2 separate regions of the Homo sapiens genome follow, and region 1 is linked to region 2. Evidence: fine-mapped expression QTL. A gene starts in region 2. The other region holds a variant in brackets. All regions are shown on one strand. Distances are between the middles of the regions. Region 1 has its middle 24 kb from the start of OCLN. Region 2 holds the start of OCLN (occludin).

Region 1 (9,345 bases), 26 kb after region 2:
ACAAAATTAGCTGGGCGTGGTGGCGCATGTCTGTAATTTCAGCTACTCGGGAGGCTGAGGCAGGAGAATGGCTTGGACCCGGGAGGCGGAGGTTGCGGTGAGCCGAGATCGCACCATTGCACTCCAGCCTGGGCAACAAAAGCAAAACTCTGTCTCAAAAAAAAAAAAAAAAAAAAACTATTTTCACTGCAGAGTCTTAGCACATCAATGTATTGTCAAACATAAGGGAAAATATTAGCCTTAGAAACAAAAACATAGGTGCGGTTTCCTTCAGCAAACTCCACAACTCAATAAATCAATCGGACAAATAGACTGGGTACAATGGCTCATGCCTGTAATCTCCACACTGGGGGAGGCCGAGGTGGGAGGATCACTGGAACCCAGGAATCCAGGATCAAGCTGGGCAGCACAAGACCTTATCTCCACGAAAAAAGTTTTAAAATTAGCCGGGTGTGGTGGCAAGCACCTGTAGTCCCAACTACTTGGTAGGCTGAGGTGGGAAGATTGCTTGAGCTCAAGAGGTTGAGGCTGCAGTGAGCCATGATCACACCACAGCACCCCAGCCTGGGTGACAAAGTGAGAACCTATTAAAAAAAAAAAGTTTGGGTGTGGTGGCTCACACCTGTAATCCCAGCACTTTGGGAAGCCAAGGCGGGAGGATCACTTGAGCCATGGAGTTCGAGACCAGCCTGGGCAACATAGTGAGAACCTGTCTCTATTTTTTAAAATAGTCCAAATAACCACCCATTATCTGTACCTATAATTAGCCTGAAAGTTAGAGACAACATATCATTATCATGGCCTTCTAGGGACAACATATCAAACTATCAAAGAAGTAGTGAAATTGAATATTTCTCTTGTATTCCTTCCCTTTGATATCAGTTCTGGCAACACAAGAGAAGAAAAGAGGGAAACATCCAAAGGAAATCCAGTTATGAACTCAGCTCTGTCAGAAATCAGCTGCGTAGTTTTTTTAAATTATACTTTAAGTTCTGGGATACATGTGCAGAGCATGCAGGTTTGTTACATAGGTATACATGTGCCATGGTGGTTTGCTGCACCCATCAACCCGTCATCTAGGTTTTAAGACCCGCATGCATTAGGTATTTGTCCTAATGTTCTCCCTCCCCTTCTCCCCCACCCCCCTACAGGCCCTGGTATGTGACGTTCCCCTCCCTGTGTCCATGTATTCTCATTGTTCAACTCCCACTTATGAGCGAGAATATGCAGTGTTTGGTTTTCTGTTCCCGTGTTAGTTTGCTGAGAACGTTGGTTTCCAGCTTCATCCATGTCCCTGCAAACAACGTGAATCATTCTTTTTTATGGCTGCATAGTATTCCATGGTGTATATGTGCCACATTTTCTTTATCCAGTCTATCATTGATGGGAATTCGGGTTGGTTCTAAGTCTTTGCTATAGTGAATAGTGCTGCAATAAACATGCATGTGCATGTGTCTTTATAGAATGATTTATAATCCTTTGGGTGTATACCCAGTAACAGGATTGCTGGGTCAAATGGTATTTCTGGTTCTAGATCCTTAAGGAATCGCCACACTATCTTCCACAATGGTTGAACTAGTTTACACTCATACCAACAGGGTGAAAGCATTCCTATTTCTCTCCACATCCTCTCCAGCATCTGTTGTTTCCTGACTTTTTAATGATTACCATTCTAACGGGTATACATGTGCCATGAGATGGTATCTTATTGTGGTTTTGATTTGCATTTCTCTAATGACCAGTGATGATGAGCTTTTTTTCATATGTTTGTTGACTGCATAAATGTCTTCTTTTGAGAGGTGTCTGTGCATATCCTTTGCCCACTTTTTGATGGGGTTCTTTGTTTTTTTCTTGTAAATTTGTTTAAGTTCCTTGTAGATTCTGGATATTAGACCTTGTCAGATGGATAGATTGCAAACATTTTCTCCCATTCTGTAGATTGCCTGTTCACTCTGATGATAGTTTCTTTTGCTGTGCAGAAGCGCTTTAGTTTGATTAGATCCCATTTCTCAATTTTGGCTTTTGTTGCAATTGTTTTTGGTGTTTTAGTCATGAACTCTTTGCCCATGCCTATGTCCTGAATGGTATTGCCTAGGTTTTCTTCTAGGGTTTTTACGGTTTTAGGTCTTATGTTTCAGTCTTTAATCCATCTTGACTTAGTTTTTGTATAAGCTATAAGGAAGGGGTATAGTTTCAGTTTTCTCCATATGGCTAGCCAGTTTTCCCAGCACCATTTATTAAATAGGGAATCCTTTTCTCATTGCTTGTTTTTGTCAGGTTTGTCAAAGATCAGATGGTTGTAGATGTGTGGTGTTATTTCTGAGACCTCTGTTCTGTTCCATTGGTCTATGTATCTGTTTTGGTACCAGTACCATGCTGTTTTGGTTACTGTAGTCTCATAGTATAATTTGAAGTCAAGTAGCAGCTGTGTAATTCTAAGCAAGACATTTAATCTGCCTTTACCACTCACAATAATGTCTCTGTGTTAGTCCATTTGCATTGCTATAAAGAAATATCAGAGACTGGGTAATTTATTTATTTTTTATCCAAAATGTGTTTATTGAGGCCAGGCACAGTGGCTCATGCCTGTAACCTCAGCACTTTAGAATGTCGAGGTGAGCAGATCACCTGAGGTCAGGAGTTCAAGATCAGCCTGGCCAACATGATGAAACCCCAAAATAAGCCGGGCATAGTGGCGCATGCCTGTAATCCCAGATACTCAGGAGGCTGAGGCAGGAGAATTGCTTGAACCTGGTAGGCGGAGGTCGCAGTGAGCCAAGCTCACACCACTGCACTGCAGCCTGGGCGACAAGAGTGAAACTCAGTCTCAAAAAAAAAAAAGTGTTTATTGAGATGATTTCCCACTCATCTTGATTCGGAGTGCTTTTTAATGCTGCTTCCTCCTGAAGGAACATCCTTCTGTAAGCCTTGCTTTTCTTTCTGTAGGCTGGCAGAGGACAGTGGAGCAGCCAACACACAAAATTTCTGTTAGTGCATGGCTAAAGACTGTGATGATTTTGTACCATCCTGGGCATTTACACCCATGAAGTAGGAATTGGGGCTCTGCATCAGGCACTGCTTCTTGTGTTTCCTCTTCCCCTATTCTGGAGAGGGATGAAGGAGATCCTTTGTGAGAGGCATGTTCTCCTGGGTAGGTCGTCACCGCTGGAAAAAGACTGGGTAATTCGCAAAGAAAAGAGGTGGCCGGCCACAGTGGCTCACGCCTGTAATCCCAGCACTTTGGGAGGCCGAGGTGGGCGGATCACCTGAGGTCAGGAGTTCAAGACCAGCCTGGCCAAAATGGTGAAACCCCATTTCTACTACAAATACAAAAATTAGCTGGGCGTGATGGCGGGCACCTGTAATCCCAGCTACTTGGGAGGCTGAGGCGGGTGAATCGCTTGAACCTGGGAGGCGGAGGTTGCAGTGAGCTGAGATTGCACCATTGCACTCCAGCCTGGGCGACAAGAGTGAAACTCCGTCTCAAAAAAAAAGGAGAGAGGAAAAAGAAGAGGTTTAATTGGCTCACCGTTCTGCAGGCTGTATAGGAAACATGGCACCAGCATCTGCTTGGCTTCTAGTGAGGCCTTAGGGAGCTTTTACTCATAGCAGAAGGCAAAACAGGAGCAGACATGTCACATGGTGAGAGTGAGTGGTGGAGGTGGAGGAGGTGCCACACTTTTTTAAACAACCAGAGCTCTCAAGAGCTCTCAGAGCGAGAACTCCCTTATTATTGTGAGGACAGCACTAACCCATTTATGAGGAATCTGCCCCCATGACCCAAACACCTCACACTAGCCCACCTCCAACAGTGGGGATCACATTTCATCATAAGATTTGGAAGAGACAAAACATCCAAACCTTATCAGTCTGTGAAAATGTTTGGAAGAATAAAGTGCTACTAGCAGTTGAGCCATTCAATATTTAAGGGCAAGCTGCTTCCATGGGCTTGGTCTTAGGAGGGAATTAAAGAATAGCTAAGGTGAAACCAACTCAATAGTCCCATAGACAGTTCTGGTCTTAAGCTTGAACCTTACATTTGTATTATCTGAGTTCCTTCCTCAGGAAAGGACCCTCAAAAGCCTCTCAAAAAGTACCTGAAGAAAAAGAACTGAAACTCACCAGATCGTTGCATCCAGACAATGAGACACCAGGCCCTTCATTCATCATGATTGCTTCCTTACCCCTCTCAAGTTGAGTTCCTGTTTTCCCATGCATAGTTACATTTCTTCCCTGCTAGATTAACCCCTAATTATAGTCAGTCAGGAGATGAATTTGAGACTAGTTCCCATGTCTTCAGCTGCAGCACCCAATTAAAGCTTTCTTCCTTGGCAATACTCATTGTCTCAGTGATTGGTTTTCTGTGCTATGAGGAGCAGGACTTAGACTGAATACCTGCTATTATGGTAACAAAAGCATGGTCTATGCTGGAGGCATCTGTGGTTTTTGCATGTCTAGCTTCTATTAGAGCACACATGCAGCTTTTCATTTATAACTCACCCTTCTTCAGCCCAGCGCAGTGGCTCATGCCTGTAATCCCAGCACTTTGGGAGGTCAAGTGGGTGCATCACGAGGTCAGGAGATCAAGACCATCCTGGCTAACACGGTGAAACCTCGTCTCTACTAAAAATACAAAAAAATTAGCCAGGCGTGGTGCCAGGCGCCTGTAGTCCCAGCTACTCTGGAGGCTGAGGCAGGAGAATGGCGTGAACCCGGGAGGCAGAGATTGCAGTGAGCCAAGATCGCACCACTGCACTCCAGCCTAGGCAACAGAGTGAGACTCCATCTCAAAAAAAAAAAAAGAAAAAGAAAAAGAAAAAAAAACCTTATCTTTCTTCCATTCCATGAGGTCCTGACGGGATTGTGTTCTGCCCACACATTAGCGGATATGAGATCCAGGCTGCCTCATCTGATGTGGTGATAGGTTCAAAGATGGACACATAACCCAAACCAAGACCTATCAGACGCTTCCAGAGACATGATAGAAAGCTGCTGGAAGAGAGCCACTTCCCTGTAACCCACTACGTGCTTATGTACTGGAGCTGACACCAGGCATCTTCCGCAGTTACACAGAGAAAGTCTAAACATGACAGCATGAGACTAAATATGCTGTGAGAAGCAGTGAAGATGAGAGAAACAGACTGAAAGGGAACCCTGAAGCCAAGTCAGCTCCTAAACTTCTCAGTTCTCTAATTCAAAAGAGTCCCTTGTATGCATAAGCTGATTTGAGTTTCTGTTATTAGAAACCAAAGCCGTTCTGACTAATACAGTTTCAGTCCTCAAATTCATATCTTATGAAATTTGATAGTTATTTACTTAATAAGAGACCATTTAAAAAATATCAGCTAATTCTGAAACATACAAGCTCAGTTTAAGCATCTTATGATGACCTCAGCACCCTAGAAGGCCTGTTTCTAGAGAACACTACTTCTGCTCTCAATAGTGGAGATGGGTGGTTAGCAATAGTTGTGTTGTACCTAAACCTGTTATTCCCACTTGTACTTGCTACTACATGTGTGTACGTATGTGTATGATTTAATTAAATATTATTTAAATGATAAAATATGATGCGGGCCAGCTGCTGTGGCTCA[G/A]GCCTATAATCCCAGTACTTGGATAGGCCAAAGTGGGTGGATCACCTGAGGTCAGCAGTTCAAAACCAGCCTGGCCAACATGGTGAAACCCCGTCTCTACCAAAAACACAAAAATTAGTCAGGCATGATCGTATGCACCTGTAAACCCAGCTACTCAGGAGGCTGAGGCAGGAGAATCACTTGAACCTGGGAAGTGGAGGTTGCAGTGAGCTGAGATCATGCTGTGTCCGGAATTGGTTCCTTACGGTGGATTCTTGGTCTCGCTAACTTCAAGAATGAAGCTGCAGACCCTCGTGGTGAGTGTTACAGTTCTTACACGTAGTGTGTCCGGAGTTTGTTCCTTCAGATGTTCAGATATGTCCAGAGTTTCTTCCTTCCGGTGGGCTCGTGGTCTAGCTTGACTTCAGGAGTGAAGCTGCAGACCTTCGCAGTGAGTGTTACAGCTCTTAAATGTGGCGCATCCAGCGTTGTTTGTTCCTCCCGGTGGGTTCGTGGTCTCACTGATTTCAGGAGCAAAGCTGCAGACCTTCGCAGTGAGTGTTACAACTCATAAAGGTAGTGCGGACCCAGAGGGAGCAGCAGCAAGATTTATTGTGAAGAGCAAAAGAACAAACCTTCCACAGCCTGGAAGGGGACCCGAACTGGTTGCTGCTGCTGGCTCCGGTGGCCAGCTTTTATTCCCTTATTTGGCCCTGCCAACGTCCTGCTGATTGGTCCATTTTACAGAGTGCTAATTGGTCCATTTTACAGAGTGCTGATTGGTCCATTTTTACAGAGTGCTGATTGGTGTGTTTACAAACCTTTAGCTAGTCACAGAGCACTGATTGGTGCATTTTTACAGAGTGTTGATTGGTGCATTTACAAACCTTTAGCTAGACACAGAGCGCTGATTGGTGCATATTTAGAGTACTGATTGGTGTGTTTACAAACCTTTAGCTAGACACAGAGTGCTGATTGGTGTGTTTACAATCCTCTAGCTAGACAGAAAAGTTCTCCAAGTTCCCACCCAACCCAGAAGCCCAGCTGGCTTCAATTCTCAATGCCACTGCATTCCAGCCTGGGCTACAGAGTGAGACCCTGCCATAAAAACAAACAAACAAAAACCACACAAATAACATAAAATAAAATATGATGACCCCAACAGAAAGGTGTTTCTAGGCTGGGCACGGTGGCTCATGTCTGTAATCCCAGCACTTTGGGAGGTGGAGGTGGGTGCATCACGAGGTCAGGAGTTTGAGACAAGCCAGGCCAACATGATGAAATCCTGTCTCTACTAAAAATACAAAAATTAGTCAGGTGTGGTGGCATGCACCTGTAATTCCAGCTACTCAGGAAGCTGAAGCAGGAGAATCTTTTGAACCTGGGAGGGAGAGGTTACAGTGAGCTATGATCGCACCATTGCACTCCAGCCTGGGCGACGTAGTGAGACTCTGTCCCAAACAAACAAACAAACAAACAAAAAGGTATTTCTATAAAAATCAAGTTAATTGTTAAAAGACTCATAATGATGTTGCTTTAGAAAAAAAAAATGTTGGCTAGGTAGGGTGGCTCACGCCTGTAATCCCAACACTTTCGGAGGCTGAGGCTGGAGGATCCTGTGAGCCCAGGAGTTTGAGACCAGCCTGGGCAGCATGGCAAGACCCCCTCTCTATGAAAAAATTAAAAATTAGCCAGGCGTGGTGGCACACACCTGTGGTCCTAGCTACTCAGGATCCTGAGGTGGGAGGATCACTTAATCCCACAAGGTCAAGGCTGCAGTGAGCCGTGTTCACACCACTGCACTCCAACCTGGGTAACAGAGCGAGACTCTGTCTCTAAAAAAAATTAATTAATGAAAAATGAAAAATGAAAAAAAATTAAGACAAACTATGGCACCCATATGTCACTTTTTGATGTTTAGCTTTAATCTACTTTTTTGAATTGACATTCTAATTACTGATCCCAGCTGTGTCAGGTAAGAGAGCAACAATCTGTTGACTTCAAAATTATCTTACCTGAACAATAGGAGATATGAACTTACTTAGGGGTTGGAAGATTTATTTTAATTATGACCCCACAGAAAAGATTCAAGACAACAAAACTTTAAGATAAGACTTTCTAATATATTAGGTAACAGAGTAAACTTAAATGAGATATTTGTTTACCTTTATTTTTATTTATTATTATTTATTATTATTTTTTGATGGGGTCTTGCTCTGTCACCCAGGCTGGAGTGCAGCGGCAAGATCTCGGATCACTGCAGCCTCCACCTCCTGGGTTCAAGCAATTCTCCCACCTAAGCTACCTGAGTAGCTGGGATTACAGGGGCACGCCACCACACCTGGCTAATTTTTGTATTTTTAGTAGAGACAGGGTTTCACCATGTTGGGAAGGCTGGTCTTGAACTCTTGACCTCACGTGATCCACCCACCTTGGCCTCCCAAAGTGCTGAGATTACAGGCGTGAGCCACTGCACCCCGGCCTATTTTTATTTTTTAATATTTATTTATTTTTGAGACAGAGTTATGCTCTTGTTGCCCAAGCTGGAGTGCAATGGCGTGATCTCGGCTCACCGCAACCTCTGCCTCCCGGGTTCAAGCAATTCTCCTGCCTCAGCCTCCCGAGTAGCTGGGATTACAGGCATGCGTCACCACACCCAGCTAATTTTGTATTTTTAGTAGAGACAGGGTTTCTCCATGTTGGTCAGGCTGGTCTTGAACTCCCGACCTCAGATGATCCGCCCGCCTTGGCCTTATTTTTATTTTTTTAGAGACGGAGTCTGACTCTGTCACCCAGGCTAGAGGGCCGTGGTGTGATCATAGCTCACCACAGCCTTGAACTCCTGGGTTACAGTGATCCTCCCGCCTTGTTCTCCCAAAATGCTGGTATTACAGGCATGAACCACCATGCCTGGTTGCAGTCTTACCTGTTTTTTTTCAAAAATGTTCTGACTATTCCATCCTATTGTAGCCTCTTCAGAATTCTCTCTCTCCAGGATTTAAGGCGCTATCAAGGTCTGTCAATCCTGAGATGAGTTATGTGAAAGTATTTAAGAAAGGATAGGGCCGGGAGCGGTGGCTCACGCCTGTAATCCCAGCACTTTGGGAGGCCAAGCCGGGTGGACCACGAGGTCAAGAGATCGAGACCATCCTGACCAACATGGTGAAACCTCGTCTCTACTAAAAATACAAAAACTTAGCCAGGCATGGTGGTGGGCAACTGTAGTCCCAGCTACTCGGGAGGCTGAGGCAGGAGAATCACTTGAAACTGGGAGGTGGAGGTTGCAGTGAGCCGAGATTGTGCCACTGCACTCCAGCCTGGGTGACAGAGCAAGACTCCATCTTAAAAAAAAAAAAATGATAAGGACTAAGGACTATATACATGTAAAAGTATAGTACTTCCTTCTCTTTCTCATTCTGTCTCTCTCTCTCTTTCTCTCTTTCTTTCACAGGATCTTGCTCTGTTGCCCAGGCTGGAGGGCAGTGGTGAGATCATGGCTCACTGCAACCTGGAACTCCTGGGCTCAAGTGATCCTTCTGCCTCCTGCCTCAGCCTCCAGAGTAGCTGGGACTACAGGCTTGCTCCACCACATCTGGCTAATATATACATCTAATATATTATATGTATTATATACATCTAATATATTATATGTATTATATACATCTAATATATTAGATGTATTATATACATCTAATATATGTATTATATACATCTAATATATGTATTATATACATCTAATATATGTATTATATACATCTAATATATGTATTATATA
Region 2 (9,345 bases):
CTCACAGATACTGAAGGGTGACTATATTGGTGGCATAAATGAGTCATTTTTAAAATGTAAACTGATTTTTTTTTTTTTTGAGACAGGAGTCTTGCTCTGTCATCCAGCCTGGAATGCAATGGCGTGATCTCGGCTCAATGCAACCTCCACCTCCCAGGTTCAAGCAATTCTCCCACCTCAGCCTCCTGAGTAGCTGAGATTACTGGCACATGCCACCAGGCCAGGCTAATTTTTGCATTTTTAGTAGAAACGGGGTTTCACCATGTTAACCAAGCTGGTGTCAAACTCCTGACCTCAGGTGATCCACCCACCTCAGCCTCCCAAAGTGCTGGGATTACAGGCATGAGCCACCATGCCCAGCCATAAACTGAATTTTTAAAAAGTCAATTCCATAGTACAGTATAGAGGAGAACTAATTTAATAATCGTTCTTTTTTTTTTTTGAGACGGAGTCTCGCTCTGTCGCCCAGGCTGGAGTGCAGTGGCGGGATCTCGGCTCACTGCAAGCTCCGCCTCCCGGGTTCACGCCATTCTCCTGCCTCAGCCTCCCAAGTAGCTGGGACTACAGGCGCCCGCCACTACGCCCGGCTAATTTTTTGTATTTTTAGTAGAGACGGGGTTTCACCGTTTTAGCCGGGATGGTCTCGATCTCCTGACCTCGTGATCCGCCCGCCTCGGCCTCCCAAAGTGGTTCATTTTTAAAGGTGCATTTCTTTGGTAAGAATTTCAACAAAAGCTAACAACCTATCCCAAACTTTATTCACAGAAATAGTGCTCATATCTAGGAATAATATGCTATTAAAAAGAACAAACAAAACCTGATTTGTACATCACATTCTAAACTATGTGCCTCTCCAGGAGGGTGACTAAGATCATTAAAGATCTAGAAAAGCTGGCCAGGCACCGTGGCTCACGCCTGTAATCCCAGCACTTTGGGAGGACGAGGCGGGTGGATCACAAGGAGATCGAGACCATCTTGGCCAACACGGTGAAACCTCGTCTCTACTAAAAATACAAAAATTAGTTGGGCATGGTGGTGTGTGCTTGTAATCCCAGCTACTTGGGAGGCTGAGGCAGGAGAATTGCTTGAACCCAGGAGGCAGAGGTTGCAGTGAGCCAAGATTGTGCCACCGCACTCCAGCCTGGCGACACAGTGAGACTCTGGCTCAAAAAAAAAAAAAAAAAAAAATCTAGAAAAACCATGTCTTAAGACAAATGATTGGAAAAACAGGAAATGTTTGGCCTGGAGAACTTAACGTCAGAAGAATCGCTTTAGCAGCCCTGAAATATATGAAGAGCTGTCTTTGTTATCCTAGAAATGGTTAAAAAAAAAAAATTCCAAAAACCACAGGCTGATTTCATCTCAATGTTAGGAAGCCTCTCCCTCACCCTGACCCCACACCCTCTCCGAAAATAACTAACAACAATTTGAGCTCATGCAATTTATGCAAAGCTTAAGTTATTTGATATTTTTTTGGAGACCAGACTGGAAGACTTCTAAGGTCTCTTTCAAAGTGAATCTGTGACTGTGCTTTAAGGCCAGCAGCCAAAGGTGAAAGAGGACCAATGCCCAGCACAGCAACATTAACAATCTGTACATGTGTTGAGTGAAGGAAAAAATGAGAATGAAGAGGCCACTTATCACCTACAGGAACTTATGTCAGGAGAGTGACAAGGACAGAAGTCAGACAGCTAAATTAGAGTCGGGGGCAAAAGGGAAGCAGCAGATAGATCCTTGTCAAATATGTTAATCTGAAAACCAGCATCTTGGGCTAATGATAAAATATAAAGTGTTCTCCCCTTGACAATGTTTACTGACCAAAAGCTGTCTTAATGGAAAACTAAGCTAAGATGAAAAAAACAGGCTGAGGCTGGGCAAGGTGGCTCACACTTGTAATCCCAGTACTTTGGGAAGCCAAGGCAGAGGGATTGTTTGAGCCCAGAACTTCAAGATCAGGCTGGGCAACAGAGTAAGACTCCGTTATCTATCTTAAAAAAAAAAAAAAAAAAAAAGTATAAAAAAAGAAAAAATAGTCTGAAAATGCTTTGGCCTCAAATTATTCTTTAAAGAAAACTGTCAATAAGTGAAAAATAAACTTTATTGTATTTAAGAGAAGTCTGTTCCTTTTAGAGCACATGCAGTAACTGTCAATTTGCCTTTAAAAAGTTTAAGTTGTGGCCGGGCGCGGTGGCTCACGCCTGTAATCCCAGCACTTTGGGGGGCCGAGACGGGAGGATCACGAGGTCAGGAGATCGAGACCATCCCCGCTAACACAGTGAAACCCCGCCTCTATTAAAAATACAAAAAATTAGCTGGGCATGGTGGCAGGCGCCTGTAGTCCCAACTACTCGGGAGGCCGAGGCAGGAGAATGGTGTGAACCCGGGAGGCGGAGCTTGCAGTAAGCCAAGATCGTGCCACTGCACTCCAGCCTGGGAGACAGCGAGACTCTGTCTCAAAAAAAAAAAAAAAAGTTTAAGTTGTGCCTTATATTAAATGATTTAGACTACAGGCACATCATTAGTAAATTGTCTAAAAATTTGAAGTTAGGCAGATTTTGTAATAGACTCTGTGTCAGAAATTGTATTTTTAATAAATCTTCCAGGTGATTTTTAAACACATCACATATTTTGAGAATTGCTGTCTACAATAAAGGTGTCAATCCAAAAAGGACATTGATCTTGCAATTTCCTGTCTAGAAAGCCCAGATCTTTTACACAACAGACACCTGCTGTTCAGGTCTCAGCTCAGACGTCACCTTCTGGGAGATGCCCTCCCTGTCCCTCACTCCATCACACAAAACTTGTTTTTTTTTTCAGAGCAAACTCCCCTCTGCCCTCATACCTAAAATATAGGTATCATCTCCACCGCATCTGGAATGCCCATATCCCAGACATCAAATGTCTATTTTGACCATCATTTATATCCCTGGTCGCTGGAACTAGCCCTGGCACAAAGTGATTGTCAATGAGTACTCAATTAATAAAACCAACAGTCAATTATTAGAGTTGGGATTTCAATCCAGCAGTGAATGCCTTGAAGTTCTTCACACAACACTCAATAAACGTTATTTTTTCCAACTTCAGTTTGTCAAATGTAATTAAGTGCGTAGAGTCTAAGAGAAAGGGAGAAAAAGAAGACAGAACAGTCTGAGAATCACCTGTGAGCCTGTTAGAAAGGCAGAATCCCAGGCCCCACTCCTGACCTCCCAATCAGAATCTGTGTTTTAATAGGATCCCTAAGTGATTCATACCACAGCCAAGACTGGAATCACTGGGTTACGGAACAGCGGCAAGCCTAGGGGTTAAAACAAAAAGCCTAACATAAATCTGCATGGTCTGTTTACTCTCTTATTTCCATAAATAGTAATTTGATGAAAAAGATCCATTAATATTCCAATCAAATAAGCCTTAAAATGCAACTGAAGAAAACTTCCTTCTGGGAGGTTCCTAGGAAGATGAAAGATATTACATCAGATCATTTATGTGGTTAAAAGTAATATACTATTTTGAAAAGGTAGTAATTCCAACACTACCTTTAGAAGAAAACAAGAATTTTACCTTGATATCAAGCAAAATGCGGGAAATCTTGTATCAGGCTACAGTTACTAGTCAATGGTAGAAAAGTCCAGAAAAATTCCCCAAATCTGGTTCTGGAATATCAAGGACCGCTGCTTCTGATACTCCTTCCCATATTAGCTGAAGCAGTTTGCAAGCAAGCCCACCTGCAACGTTTCCCCCACGGCATTTGCCCACTTTTAAAATGGAGTTCTACTAAGGCCTGCCTTTTAGAGTTGTTGGGATAATTAAATGAGAAAATACAGAATGCTTTTACCACAGTGCCTCACGTGCAGGAGGCACTGCTGCCCACTATTTCCCGAAATGGCCTGGAAACTGCCAAAAGGTGGAGAATCATGTCTTACCGATCTCCCTATCCTCTGCTCCGTCACCTAACAAAGGAGGCCCCTAATAACTAAATAAATTGCAAAACGACCAAAAAAAAAGTGTTGCTTTGTTTGAGGAAATATCTCTGCCTCCCACACACACTTAAGATGTCTATTTTAAAGCACCACTAAGAAAATATTCATAAAGGCTGGGTGTGGTGGCTTACGCCTGTAATCCCAGCACTTTGGGAGGCCAAGGCGGGCGAATCACCTGAGGTCAGGAGTTCGAGACCAGCCTGACCAAATGGCAAAACCCTGTCTCTACTAAAAATACAAAAATTAGCTGTGCATACTAGTGGGTGCCTGTAATCCCAGCTATTCGGGAGGCTGAGCAGGAGAATCGCTTGAACCCGGGAGGCAGAGGTTGCAGTGAGCCCAGATGATGCCACTGCACTGGGGGACAGAGCCAGACTCCGTCTCGGAAAAACACACACACACACACACACAAGCACCTCATATGTACAGTGCAAAAGAACTACTGTTACTATTGTTACACTTGGGAACGCCTAGTTTTCTATCACACCAAGAATCACCAAAAAACACCATAAGTGCCTTCATGGGAAACGTTTCTCTTTTCCAGGTATCCCAATAATACACCTGTTGCCTAAGGGCCACACACTGACTGGCCTGGAAAGCCGCCGCCTCCTCCTCGAGCAGGGTAATTCCCCAAGCGGGCAGTGTGGCCAGCGAGCCCCGGGTCCGGCCTAAGGATGCCGCGGCTTTTCCCTCGGGCCCGGTGGCTTCCCGAGGAGCGCGAGGGGCTCGGCGCCGCTCCCAACCCCTAGGCGCAGAGGCCATCTTGGCCCTCGACCCCTGCTCCCCGCACGCTTCCTCCGACGCAGGCAACATGGCTGGCGCGCGGGGCCGGCCCAGTCCCGGAGGTCCCCAAACTCCGTGGCCCGGCTGGGCGCGGGTCCCGGCTTCCGTGCGCACCGAGGCGCTCCCAGGCAGCGCGCGCCCACGTTCGCCGGGCAGGCACCGCCCGGAGGCAGTTCCGCCCCCCTGGGGGCAGCCCTTTTGGTCACGGATGAGAATCCGAAGCGTGAGCAGCTTCCCTCGAAGTCCAGCCTCACTCGAAATTAACTCCCCGCCCCCCAGCTTAAATCGACGCGGGTTCACACAACTCGCAACAAGTGGATTCGAAGTAGCCAGTGTGGCCCACACCGTGACTCCTGGAATATTTCACAGATTGAATCCAGCCCCCGTCTCCCCGGGATATCCAAAGGGGTGGGGTGGGAGCGGAAGGAATGAAATTCCCCCCGGGATCTAAGCCGCCCGGGCCGCCGAACAGCCGCCTCGCTGCAGCCTCAGGCTTAGGACCCCCAAGGAGCTGGGCGCAGGATCCCTCTCCATGAAGGCCGCCCCCCCAAACTGCAGCCCCAGAGCGGATGCAGGATCGTCGCTGTTCAGGAATGTCGTGCCCCATAAAAGTGAAAAGTTGCCCGCGCCGCTGAGGCACTGCTAGCTTTCAGCGTTTCCGCGGAATAAAGCTTGATCGGCGGCTCCAAGCCACCCCTCGCCCCAGGAGGCAGCCTCCCAAGTTGGCCGGTGCTGCTCTCTCCGCAGACCCGCGCCTCTCTGGTTCCCACGAGTCCCAGCTCGGGGACGAAACTGCCACCGAAACCAGCGCGGAGCGTCCTCCCCCCGGCACCTCCCCTAACATAGTCGCCGCGGTCCCCCCACGGGGACCCTCGGGCTCCCGTGCGCCCCTGACGCCGCGCCCAACACTCACCCGCTCGCCGCAACTGGGCCCGACCCTCCGGGGGCCAACGGTGCCAGGGAGCGCGCTCACCTGGCGGGCGCACCTGACGCCGCACCGACCGCCAGCGCTCAGCCGGGGACTGGGCTGGGGACGTCTCCTCCCCCTTCTCCCTCTCCTTTCCCTCCTCCCTACAACCGGCCCTGCCCCCGGGCATGCGCACCAACGTGGAAGGGGGTGCGGGAAGCCTGCGGGCCAGCGCCGCGAGTCCCACCTGCTGCGTCCTAGACCGGCTCCTCGGCGCTCTGGACCTGGCTCTCGGTTCCTGCCGCCTCCGCCAGAGGAAGCAGGGAGGGAGAGGTGGACGCGGGAGTGTAGGTGTGGTGTGTCGGCCTCCTCCCTCGGTGACCAATTCACCTGAAACTCGGATGGGAGGGGGCGGGAGGACGCGGTCCTGCTTCCCACACCCTGCCAGCGCGCTGTTAAAGGAACCGCGCGACGTTGCGGCCCGAGAGGCGGGGCGCAGAGGAGAGGCGCGGGCTCCTAGGGGGCAGCACGGATGGGGGTCCCTGACCACCCCGGGGTGCGTTCGGTGCTCCGCCTGCTTCGGATGGAACCTTGGGGTGTCTGATGGAGAGAGGCCGAACGAGGTCCAGAGGGGACTGTTTCCTCCGGAAAGAGGGTCCAGGCACTCAGCACTTTGATAGGAAAGGCACGTCCTCACAGGACACTTTTCTGCTTCCAGAATTTGATTAAACTGTTGCTGGAAAAAGGCATCTAGATGTATTGCTCCAACGAAAGACTCCTGGGAAAATTTCAAAAGTCGTGTGTAAACATTGGCGCTGTTTCTGAATCTCTAGATTCAGAATAAGAGACAATTACTTAGAGGGGTTAAAATGAGGGTGAACTACTGTAGGTGTTAGTTGCCATCCAGCAGGCTAAAGTGCATAATACAGTTTACACATCACCACCCCAGGGTCCTCTCCTGCCCACCCGGTCCGCTCTTGAGGACCGGGAAATTTAAACTATTATGGCTCTTTGGCCTGAGAAAAAGCACCTTATACGTTGTTTACCAACCTGTAGTGCTTTAAGAACAACACTACTTAAAAAGCAAAATAAACTTGGTTTACTTTTTTTTTTTTTTTAAGAAAACGAAAAAGCACCTTAGTTCCGGGTGCTGTATTCTATTTCTTGATCTGGATTCTGTTTCCAAGGGAAATTTCATAGTCTGCACTTAACACTGTGTATATTTTTATGTATGTTGGTTGTTTTTCAACATATTTTTTAATTGTACTCCAGGATGTGGCAATTATAGTTCTTGGCATTTAACTATCTGCATTGAAAGCGAACTTTTAGGTTTCTTACATCCTGCTTGTCTTTGTGTTCCAATCTGGAATGTCAGCATTGCTAATAAATTTCTATCCAATCCCACCCACTTCTCTACCTTTAATTAAATGGTTAGAGATGTGACTCTCCCATACATTAGATCTTAAGGCACAATTCATACTTGAGGAAGTAAAAGCACTATATAAATATGAGGTATTTCAGATGATGGCAGCTTTAATGGGTAATTAATTTAATTGGTATTTTTTTCGTGGAAGTCATTGCTACAAATGCTTTAATATGACTATGTAGTTTTTGAATGATGCAGTTTAAATTGGTATTGTTAACACTGGGGAAGTCAGGTTAATCCCCTTAATGTTCCCTGTCAGATTACTGAAATCTCCAAACATTCCATTTGGTTTATAATTAAACAAGGGAACATTTCCTAATACTCTCAGATTTGTAAACACATGTCTATTATTTTATAATGTATTTTGACATGTTCTGAAGAGATCTTAGGAGTTTTTTTCCACTTTATAAAAGAGAGTTCACATACCATAAAATTCACCCTTTTAAAGGGCACGTACAATTCAGTGGGTTTTAGTATACTCACCAGATTGTACAACCATCACCACCATCTAATTCCATTTTAATCGCCCCCAAAAGAAACCCCATGCCCATTAATAGTCACTCCCCATTTCCCCTCTCCCCTCATCCCTCGGCAACCACTAATGTACTTTCTGTCTCTATTAATTTGCCTATTCTGGACATTTTATATGAATGGATAATACAATATGTGCCCTTTGTGTCTGTCTTCTTTCACTTAGCATAATATTTTAAAGGTTCATCCATGATGTAGTATGTATTGGTACTTCATTCCTTTTTATAACTGAATAATATTCCATTGTATCGATGTATCACATTTCGTTTAATCATTCATCTGTTGATGAACATTTGGGTTGTTTCTCCTTTGGGGATGTTATGAATAATGTTACTATGAACATTTGTGTACAAGTTTTTGTGTGGACATATGTTTTCGGTTCTCTTGGTAAATTAGGTTTTTAAATTAAACTTTTTATCATTTTAAGATAACTTATGCATATCATGTTATTTTTCTTATTCCCACCCTAAACCTAAACTCAAAGACATGTTGTGTTGGGTAGAAGGCTTTCATATTCTATTTGCTTTCCCAATTCATTCCTTCAACTATTTTCTGAGTGCCTAATCTGTACACACACGAGTGAACAAAACTCAAAAATCTCTGTGAAACTTACTTTCTAGTTAGTTCTGAGTTCATCCATATGGAATAATAGGATTCATTAATTGTATGAATTCTATTTTATTCGCTTGAGATTAATTTTCTAAACAACAACATCAAAAGAACGGTTAACTATTGTCCAATATTGTGTATATTTCATAGTTGAAAGTGTCTAGAAAGAAAATCCAGCCTTAAAACTTAAACACATCATTCTTCAATACCAAAACAAAATTTGTTGGATGTTAAATGATGCCATGCTCAATTTAATCATGTTACATAATCATAAATTATAGCAAAATTTAATTACTATATTTTTTACCAAATATTCCTTCTTGGCAACTCACAGTAGTATTGAGTAGTATCCACTATTGAATATTATTTGATGAAAATCCCCGTGACTCAGAGCAATGTAAATATTATTTTCAGAACCCCATGATTAGAAACTTGTTGACTTTACCTGCAGTCAAATGGATAAGATGAAAAGACAATTTGTTTCTCCTTTTCTATGTGTAAAAGAGAAACTTAAGAGCTCAGATTATGGTGTCAGAAATCTCAGTTCAAATTCCAGTGTTGCTACTTGGTAGCTGGGTAGGACTAAAGGAAATTAAACTATGTAAGGTTCATTTTTTTCCACCGTAAATTTGAGATGATAATAAACAATACTGTCTTTATAAGTCTGTTGGTGGGAATGTGGAGCATTCACCAAGACAGACTATATGCTGAGCCACGAAACAAGTCTCAATAAATTGAGCAAGCCATTGCTGTATCCTATATGCCTGAAATAGTTCCTGTCACATAGGAATTACATAACTATGTGTTGGATGAATGAATGAATGACTATAGCCCTGCTTCCCAAATCCAACATGCCTGTGGAGTCTTGTCCTCCTCTCAGATGGCCTCCTGCTATTGTGAAACCCGCACGTTCCTTAGTAGCATTTCAAGGCTTACATCTCTAGTACTAGGGTTTAGAGGAGAAAAGACGGGAGATTAACATAGTTCCACTGTTTCCACTCTGCCTTGCCTGCTTAGTAAATGAATTCAAAGACTGGTATGTGTCCAAGGCAACTCAGTTTGGAGTTGCTGAGGGCCTGGCCTGAAAGGCCTCTAGTTTCTCTGCCCAGTCA

Evidence for each region. PIP is the estimated chance that this variant, and not a neighbour inherited with it, causes the effect.
Region 1: its variant is fine-mapped to the expression of OCLN in whole blood (TOPMed, PIP above 0.99).

The regions. Positions count from the first base shown.
Region 1 is chr5:69,463,679-69,473,023 of GRCh38, reverse strand. It overlaps the pseudogene RPS27P14. Among named protein-coding and RNA genes, the nearest start is that of OCLN, 24 kb to the left of the region's middle. The variant G/A (reference allele first, on the strand shown) is at 5,592.
Region 2 is chr5:69,489,229-69,498,573 of GRCh38, reverse strand. It overlaps OCLN (occludin), which reads right to left and starts at 5,784. Exons shown (of 9, transcript NM_001205254.2): 1 at 5,674-5,784.